Homo sapiens: one gene and its partner. The protein of the gene in region 2 interacts with the protein of the main gene of each other region in a biochemical or structural test. Each region holds a gene or a part of one and is shown on either strand. Other genes may lie near its edges.

The links.
Region 1: the proteins of WDR43 (region 2) and UTP15 form a complex in vitro, tested with the Homo sapiens proteins (one study listed by IntAct).

The regions. Positions count from the first base shown.
Region 1 is NC_000005.10:73,568,428-73,572,345, reverse strand, and holds part of UTP15 (U3 small nucleolar RNA-associated protein 15 homolog), read right to left. Parts: coding exon 3,742-3,918; intron 2,850-3,741; coding exon 2,671-2,849; intron 1,761-2,670; coding exon 1,635-1,760; intron 1-1,634. UniProt on the Homo sapiens protein: Ribosome biogenesis factor. Involved in nucleolar processing of pre-18S ribosomal RNA. Required for optimal pre-ribosomal RNA transcription by RNA polymerase I.
Region 2 is NC_000002.12:28,939,413-28,943,330, reverse strand, and holds part of WDR43 (WD repeat-containing protein 43), read right to left. Parts: intron 1,871-3,918; coding exon 1,757-1,870; intron 1,020-1,756; coding exon 950-1,019; intron 1-949. UniProt on the Homo sapiens protein: Ribosome biogenesis factor that coordinates hyperactive transcription and ribogenesis. Part of the small subunit (SSU) processome, first precursor of the small eukaryotic ribosomal subunit.

The DNA of each region.
Region 1 (3,918 bases), on a different chromosome or scaffold from region 2:
GGATGCACCACTTCCTGGGTCATTGGTAATAACAGTTCCTACCTCACAGAACTGTTATGACCATTAAATAATATTTGTGAAGTGTACATAAATTCCAGCAAAATAAATGTATAACTGAAAGAGTCCATTTTAAGAAAATTATAATAAAATCATTTTTTAAAAGAAATTCTATATAGCAGTGGAAGTGAATAATGTAGATCTGCAGCAAAATATCAAGCAAAAAAGTCTAATATGGAAAGACAGAAAAAGGGATGGAAGGGGAGACTGAAATCTTGACTGGGGAACAGGAGTTGGAACCCAACTCACAGTTCCCACCTCTCCACTCCTATGTGGCACCTCACAAGAGGGATCACAGTTGAAATCACTGATCTAGTCCAACCCTCTCATTTTCAAGGTCTAGAGACCTTAAGGGATTGCCCGAGGTCACAATTAGCTAGTGACACACAGTGGAGATCAGCACACAGCTTTCTATTCTCCCTGTTCAACATGATATTTTTTCCATTTGTCAGAATAACAGCAAGAAAAGTAGACACATCTGACATTATCAACTTTTTTCTTTTTTTAATTAAAGATGGAGTCTTAGAGTCTTGCTATGTTGCCCAGGCTGGTCTCAAACTCCTGGACTCAAGCTATCCGCCTGCCTCAGCCTCCCAAAGTGCTAGGATTACAGGCGTGAGCAACCACATCCCGCCTCAACTTATTTTTAAATCAAATAGGTACTGGGGAAAAGAATATAAAACAGAGTAATTTCTAGCCAGATTTTAGAATTAAGAAAAAAAAAAAAAGGAGGTACACACAGCAATATATATGTTGTCAAGTATACATACTACCTATACATTCTTCTAATATGAACACATTTTTACTTTATTTACAAATGAAAAAAGCCAATTTACTTCTTCCACTGTAATTATGAAAATGCAATATGTGCAAAATGAGAAAAACATCTCAGTCCCAACTTGTTGAAAAATGTACCAAGGCCCCTTTTGAGGCCACATTATCTCCTTTCTCTAGTACTAGCAGCTATTTGCTGGGTAGTGGCATTTCAATCAAGAGAGTCACAGAAAAAGAGACAAGCCTACTAGATCTCAAATAACTGATTTTCAAAAGCTGCTGCAGATCTCTTAGGTAGGAGTAAAAGGAGTATGAGCTAAATTTCTGGGGTTAAATAAGATGGCACAGGGCTAAATACATAAGAGCTAAATTTCTGGGGTTAAATAAGATGGCACAGGGCTAAATTTCTGGGGTTAAATAAGATGGCACAGGGCTAAATAAATAAGATGGCACAGGGCTAAATACACAGAGCTCTCGAGTTCTGTGATTTCAGATCTGCCACTTACCACTTTGCCTTGAAAAATAAGTTAAAACTTTTATTTCATTGCTGTAAAGTAGGGAAAAAGCTAACTACCTTGTAGCATCATCTAGGGCATTAGAGTTCATATGTAACAGCACAGTGCCTGGCTCACATTAGGTACACAATAAATGATAACTGCTTGCCAGTCCTACCTATCAACTGTTTGAACAAAGACTTAGATATGCAATTCAAATGCACACTGATAAATTACAAAGAGCAACTGATTTTAAACAAACGTGATTCAAAACCAACAATATTGGTGAAAGCTATTTTTAAGAAGTACCTGCTGACACCAGAAGACCTCCAGAGGGGAAAAGTAGGACACTCTCCACTGGCTGCCCATGCTCAACGGAGAGAACACTCTCACTCGTTCGTGCATCAAACATCTTCACAGTATGATCATATGATCCTAAAATGTCAATTTTTGAATTTTTAGTTTGACTGTTTAAAACAACAAAAACTGTGTGTATCCAGATATAAATTTTAAAAGGAAAAAAAGCTTAGATGGAGTTTTAAAAAGACATATATGTATATTCATGAAGACACAGGACCTCCAAACCATCTACTACTGATCGTGTCTGAAGAAGCACTACATAATACTATACAGAATCTAACTTGCTCTGATCTTAAAATATTTCTTTCTTTGGACTACTGTCACTACTGAATCATCTGGAAATCTTTGTAAAGGCACCCACAAAGGCTAAACTGCACTCTTTGTTTCTTGGCTGCTTGAGGCAGGGTACTATACATTACAGTTCTGAGAGTCTATTATGTTTTCAAGACAGCCTGATTTTTCCAAACACATTTGGAAGACATGAACAATCAACAAAAGAAGAATAAGAAAATAAAAAACAATTGGAAGCCAGGCATGGTGGCTCACACTTGTAATCCCAGTCCTCCGGGAGGAAATTGAGGTAGGTGGATCACTTGAGCCCAGGAGTTCGAGACCAGCCTGGGCAACATGGCAAAACCGTCTCTACAAAAAAATACACAAAGTAGCTGGACGTGGTGGTGGGCACCTGTAGTCCCAGCTACTTGGGAGGCTTATGTGGGAGGATCACTTGAGCCCAGGAGGTAGCAGATGCAGTGAGCTATGGTCACATCACTGCACTCCAGCCTGGGCAACAGAGTGAGACCCTGTCTGAAAATAAATGCAAACATACATACATAAAAATTAATTTAAAAACTGAAGAATTAATCAGAAACATATTCCTTTATAAAAAAAATTTAAACCCCTCCATCCCAAAAGAGTCCCATAGCAACATTAAAGTACATCCCCGTGAGATTATTTGCTTCAGGAGGGAATAGAGTTCACCAACCTGTTATAAAGAGATCCGGATTAAGTTTGCTAGCACATCCACACCTCACATAATCAGAGTGTTCTTTAAATGTCAAAATTTCTTTGGAGTTTGGAATATCCCATAATTTAACTGTATAATCATCAGCCCCAGAGACCACGTGATATTTGTCAGCTGTAAAATCTACTGTATGAACTGCTCTGAAAGATTGAAGGTCAGTATATTAAAAAGCAAGAAAATTATTTTTCTGATACCTTCTAACATAAAATGCTCCTTTTTCTCAGATTAAAAAAAAAGCAGCTGAGTTTCAGGGAGTCTTCATAGGGGGAAATCATGAAAGAAAGAGAAAACTTACAAGTGTTTGCCCCCAAACCAATTAAGAAGTGTAAATACTCCTATATTGTAAAGTTAAAAAAAATTAAAGGATAGCCTTAAAATTATATTTTCTAGTATATAAACAATTCCACTTAGCTGCTGAATATGGAAGCAAAGGCACTTTAATTTTTAAAATTTCAAAAAGTTCTTTAAAAAACTCTAAAGAGATTTACCACTAAATAGAATCATGTTACATAAATTTCTGTTAAATTTTAACAAATTTCAGCACGGACATTGGCAATCCTGAAAACAAAGTTATAATATAAAATTGTGATGGCCACTTAATTTATTAAGGGGCAAAACACTATAAATTCAAGAAGAAAATCCACCTTCCTACTTGACTTCAACATAAGAGCCTCTAAGACAGTACAGGCCTATAGAGCTGTCATTACCAGCTGTAAGGTTGTCTTCAGGTCAGTAATTCATAATCTCAGCTGGGCCACAGACCCCACTAAAGTTAACCAAAAGCTACAGAGTAGCTCCCTAGATAAACGTGTATTTCCTAAAATATCACATACAATTCTAGGGAATTCATAAGCCCCATGAAACTGGACCACGGAACCCAAGTTAAGCACTCTTAGAACAATCAGGAAATATAGTACCTATAGGCAAATAATCTCCATAAAACTGATCTCTATCTTTTTAACCAAAGTCCAGAGAAAAAAAGAGCTTACAACAAAATAAAACCAGAACACACAGAAACCAACTGTCTCTTACTTTGTATGGCCTTCAAACTGCCTGAGGGGAGCCCTCCCACTTATATCAAAAAGTTGAACTCCACCATCTTCACTGCCAGCCACAAGCAATCTACCATCTTGTCGAAAAGTAGCACAGTATGCTGTGTCTTTAAATCGAGAAAAGGTTTTTATAGGTTCTTGGGAGTATCGGCCATAA
Region 2 (3,918 bases):
AGACCTCATCTCTACCTTTAAAAAAAGAAAATTGGCCAGGCATGGTGGCTCAACAGTCCCAGCTACTCTAGAGGCTGAAGCAGGATGATCGCTTGAGTGTAAGAGTTTGAGGCTGCAGTGAGCTATGATTGACCTCGAGCCACTGCACTCCAGCCTGAGCAACAGAGAGAGTCTGTGCAAAAAAGAAAAGAAAAGATTTGTTCTTTGAAGGCCTGATCAAATAACCTTCAAAATATCTGGGCATATCTTGTGAGAAGTTTTATAAAGTCAATTTTAGAGCTACTGGCTTTTTCAAACTTTTTATTTCTTTTAAAGTCAATTTTGGTCATTAATGTTTCCTTAAAAATTAACTATACCACCTAGACTTTTAAATGTATTTACACTAAGTTTGTTCATATAATGTTCTTCTATTTAAATATTTTCCATACCTGGCCAGGCATGGTGGCTCACACCTGTAATCCAAGCACATTGGGATCACTTGAGCCCAGGAGTTTGAGACCATCCTGGGCAACATAGTGAAACTCTGTCTTTACAAAAAAATACCAAAGTTGGCCGGGCATGGTGGTGCACGCCTGTAGTCCCAGCTACTCAGGAGGCTGAGACAGGAAGATTGCATTGAGCCCAGGAGGTTGAGGCTGCAGCAAGCTGTGATCACAGCACTGCACTACAACCTAGGCAACAGACTGAGACTGTCTTAAAAAAAAAAAAAAAGAAAAGAAAAAAAAAATCTTCCATAACTAATGCCCTTTTTTGTCACTGTATTATACTTGTGCCTTTTCTTTTCTTATCTGATGAATTACAGATTTTTGCCACGGACTTGCCTATTTTAATTAGAGAAGGCTTGCCAAAGGAAGATCTTATGTTGACGTTTTCAAAAAGATAACAGAACTCAGTCACTGAAAACTGAATGTTATAATTCTAGACTCCATCCCATTCCCCCAGTCTTTACCTTCTTCATACACCAACTTTGCCTTCTGTCCAGGGGAAGTTGCTCCCTTTGTCTTCTCTGATGCTGTTACCTGGAAGAAGATAAAGTACTGTTCTGAAGTAGAGTGTAAACATATCCCAAGTATCACGACCACCAGCATACCCAACCTTCCCCACTGCTTGCTGCTAACTCACCCTCCACCACCATAATGGAGGACCTTCATACAATACAGAGCAAAAAAGTCCTTCAAATACAAGAGGGAAAGAATTACTCTGTAAAGCTGAAAAACTCTGAGGTGATTAGAATATCTTTCTGTGCCAAAATTTTAACTGTATAAATATCCTATAACTTACTAACTGTATAACAACTGAAACACAATGGTGAGAAAAAGATTTGAGTAAAAGTTGAAACAGACACAACTAAACTTTCTTACTGTCAAACTGATAAGCTTTCCAAGTTAAAGACTAGATCCTGATTTACCAATTTCTTACTGAAACAGGGAGCTCTCAGCCAGGCGTGGTGGGTCACGCCTGTAATTCCAGCACTTTGGGAGGTCAAGGTGGTAGGATCCCTTGAGCCTAGGAGTTCAAAACCAGCCTAGGCAATGCCATCTCTACGAAAATTTAAAAATTAGCCAGGCATGGTGGTGCATCCGTGTAGTCCCAGCTACTTGGGAGGCACTTGAGCGAGGCTGCAGTGAGCTATGATCATGCTACCGCAGTGCAGCCTGAGCGACAGAGCAAGACCCTGTCTCAAAATGATCCTTATTCCTCTCTCCATTCCTACCATGTCCAAAAGTTTTAGCCCAGAACAATATGATTTACTCACTTGTGTAATTAGAAGAATAAGCTTTCCATGAAGGTGTGAAAGTTTCTGAAAAGTTTTGACTCTGCTTTCCATTAACTGGTAGAGTGTCCCCAGCTGGGGTACCAGGTCAGGCAACTAGAGAAAAAAATGATCATTTGGCACTATTAACGTATTAGAGATGACGAACACGCAAATCATGCTCAGCTATGCCTCAGTATTTAGCCACTGCACCACACACATCTGCTTACAAGTACTCCCAGTGGCAGTGGCTACCTGCAACATAGCCTAACAACATCACGAATTTTCACAGAAGACCCTCAATGTCCTAGGAGGAAAAAATAATAGGCTTATAAAAAAAATGATATAAGGGCAAGAGAGTGAAACTGCAAGGTGGCACTTTTCTGTATTGATCAAACTATTTCAGATAAGGCCAATATCCCATATAAAGTAGACAGGAAATTAAAAATGCCTCTACCACGTATCTCCAGGCTAAAGAGGCTTTCCTCTGAATCTTATCCTCTGATGCTAGCATATTATCTACCCTTACTGTAAGGCCCCAAAGAGGCAGAGAAGCCTTTTCCCAGCTCCCAGAGACCAGTAGAACAAAGTACAAAGTTGACCTTTTGCATTTTAAATATACTTCCTGTTAATGAGTCCTCTGAAACATATTTAAAAAATGAAAGTAGGACATTCTCTTTTTTGCTCCCATGTTGCTCTCATCAGAGTCTTTTGTATTGAGAATATAGCTGTTATATTTGGAACACAACACGACTGATAAAGGTCTGGCTCCTCCAGGTTCACTGAGGAATAAAACAATGGTAATTTGCCTTTCTCATAAAATCTTAAAGTCCCCTTGATCATTTTTAACAATATGAAAGGAAACCATGATGGCCATAATTTTTCTATCCTAGATCAACTATAAAAAGCAACTGGAAAAATTTAAATGCCTCTTTTTAAAGGAAGCCATTTGGAAGTCCAGAACAAGCCTCTTCCTGTCCCACTGCCTTCAAATACCTGCCTCTGGTTAATTTTCCTCCCATCTCTGGGCTCTAAGAACAACGCTGGCAGCTGGGCGCGGTGGCTCATGCCTGTAATCCCAGCACTTTGGGAGGCTGAGGCGGGCAGATCACCTGAGGTCAGGGGTTCAAGACCAGCCTGACCAACATGGAGAAACCCCATCTCTACTAAAAACACAAAAATTAGCCAGGCATGGTGGCATGTGCCTGTAATCCCAGCTACTCGGGAGGCTGAGGAAGGAGAATCATTTGAACTCATAAGGCGGAGGTTGCGGTGAGCCAAGATCGTGCCATTGCACTCCAGCCTAGGCAACAAGAGCAAAACTCCGTCTCAAGAAAAAAAAAAAGAAAAAGAACAACGCTGGCTTCCCCACCTCACCCCCTACCCCCGTGATATTCTGATATTCTTTTATCTGTCCCTGTAGCACTACAGAAAAACGGACTCCATTCTTTTTTTTTTTTTTTTTTGAGACGGAGTCTCGCTCTGTCGCCCAGGCTGGAGTGCAGTGCCATGAACTATGCTCACTGCAACCTCTGCCCCCCCGGGTTCACGCCATTCTCCTGCCTCCCTCAGCCTCCCGAGTAGCTGGGACTACAGGCACCTGCCATCACGCTCGGCTAATTTTTTGTATTTTTAGTAGAGACGGGGTTTCACCGTGTTAGAAAGGATGGTCTTGATCTCCTGAACTCATGATCCACCCGCCTCAGCCTCCCAAAGTGCAGGGATTACAGGTGTGAGCCACCGTGCCCAGACTCCACTCCTTACCTCTGATTAGCCTTTACCTGCACTCCTATTTCTAATACTTTAGTAAAAAAGTGTTTCATTCAAATGTTAACTTTAAACAGCAGACAGACACAAAAATTAGTAAAGCAAGGTTTAAGGTCATTGCATTCCAATTTATCACCTCCCTTTTGTGTCCCTGTTCAGACTATGAGCTCCAAGAAGATGGGGACCAGAGTGTTTGGTACATTGCTGAATCCCCATGCCTGGCATAGCCCTTGGCTTACAGAAGGCACTTAAAAATATCAGCAAAGGAAGGAAGAAATGAAGGAAAAGAGCGAGGAAAACCATGGTTTCCTTGATAACTGCTACGGGCTGAGGGGCCCTCCCTATACCATTCTTTCGTCTGTTCTGCCACGACCTTGAATGTTACACCACAACTACTC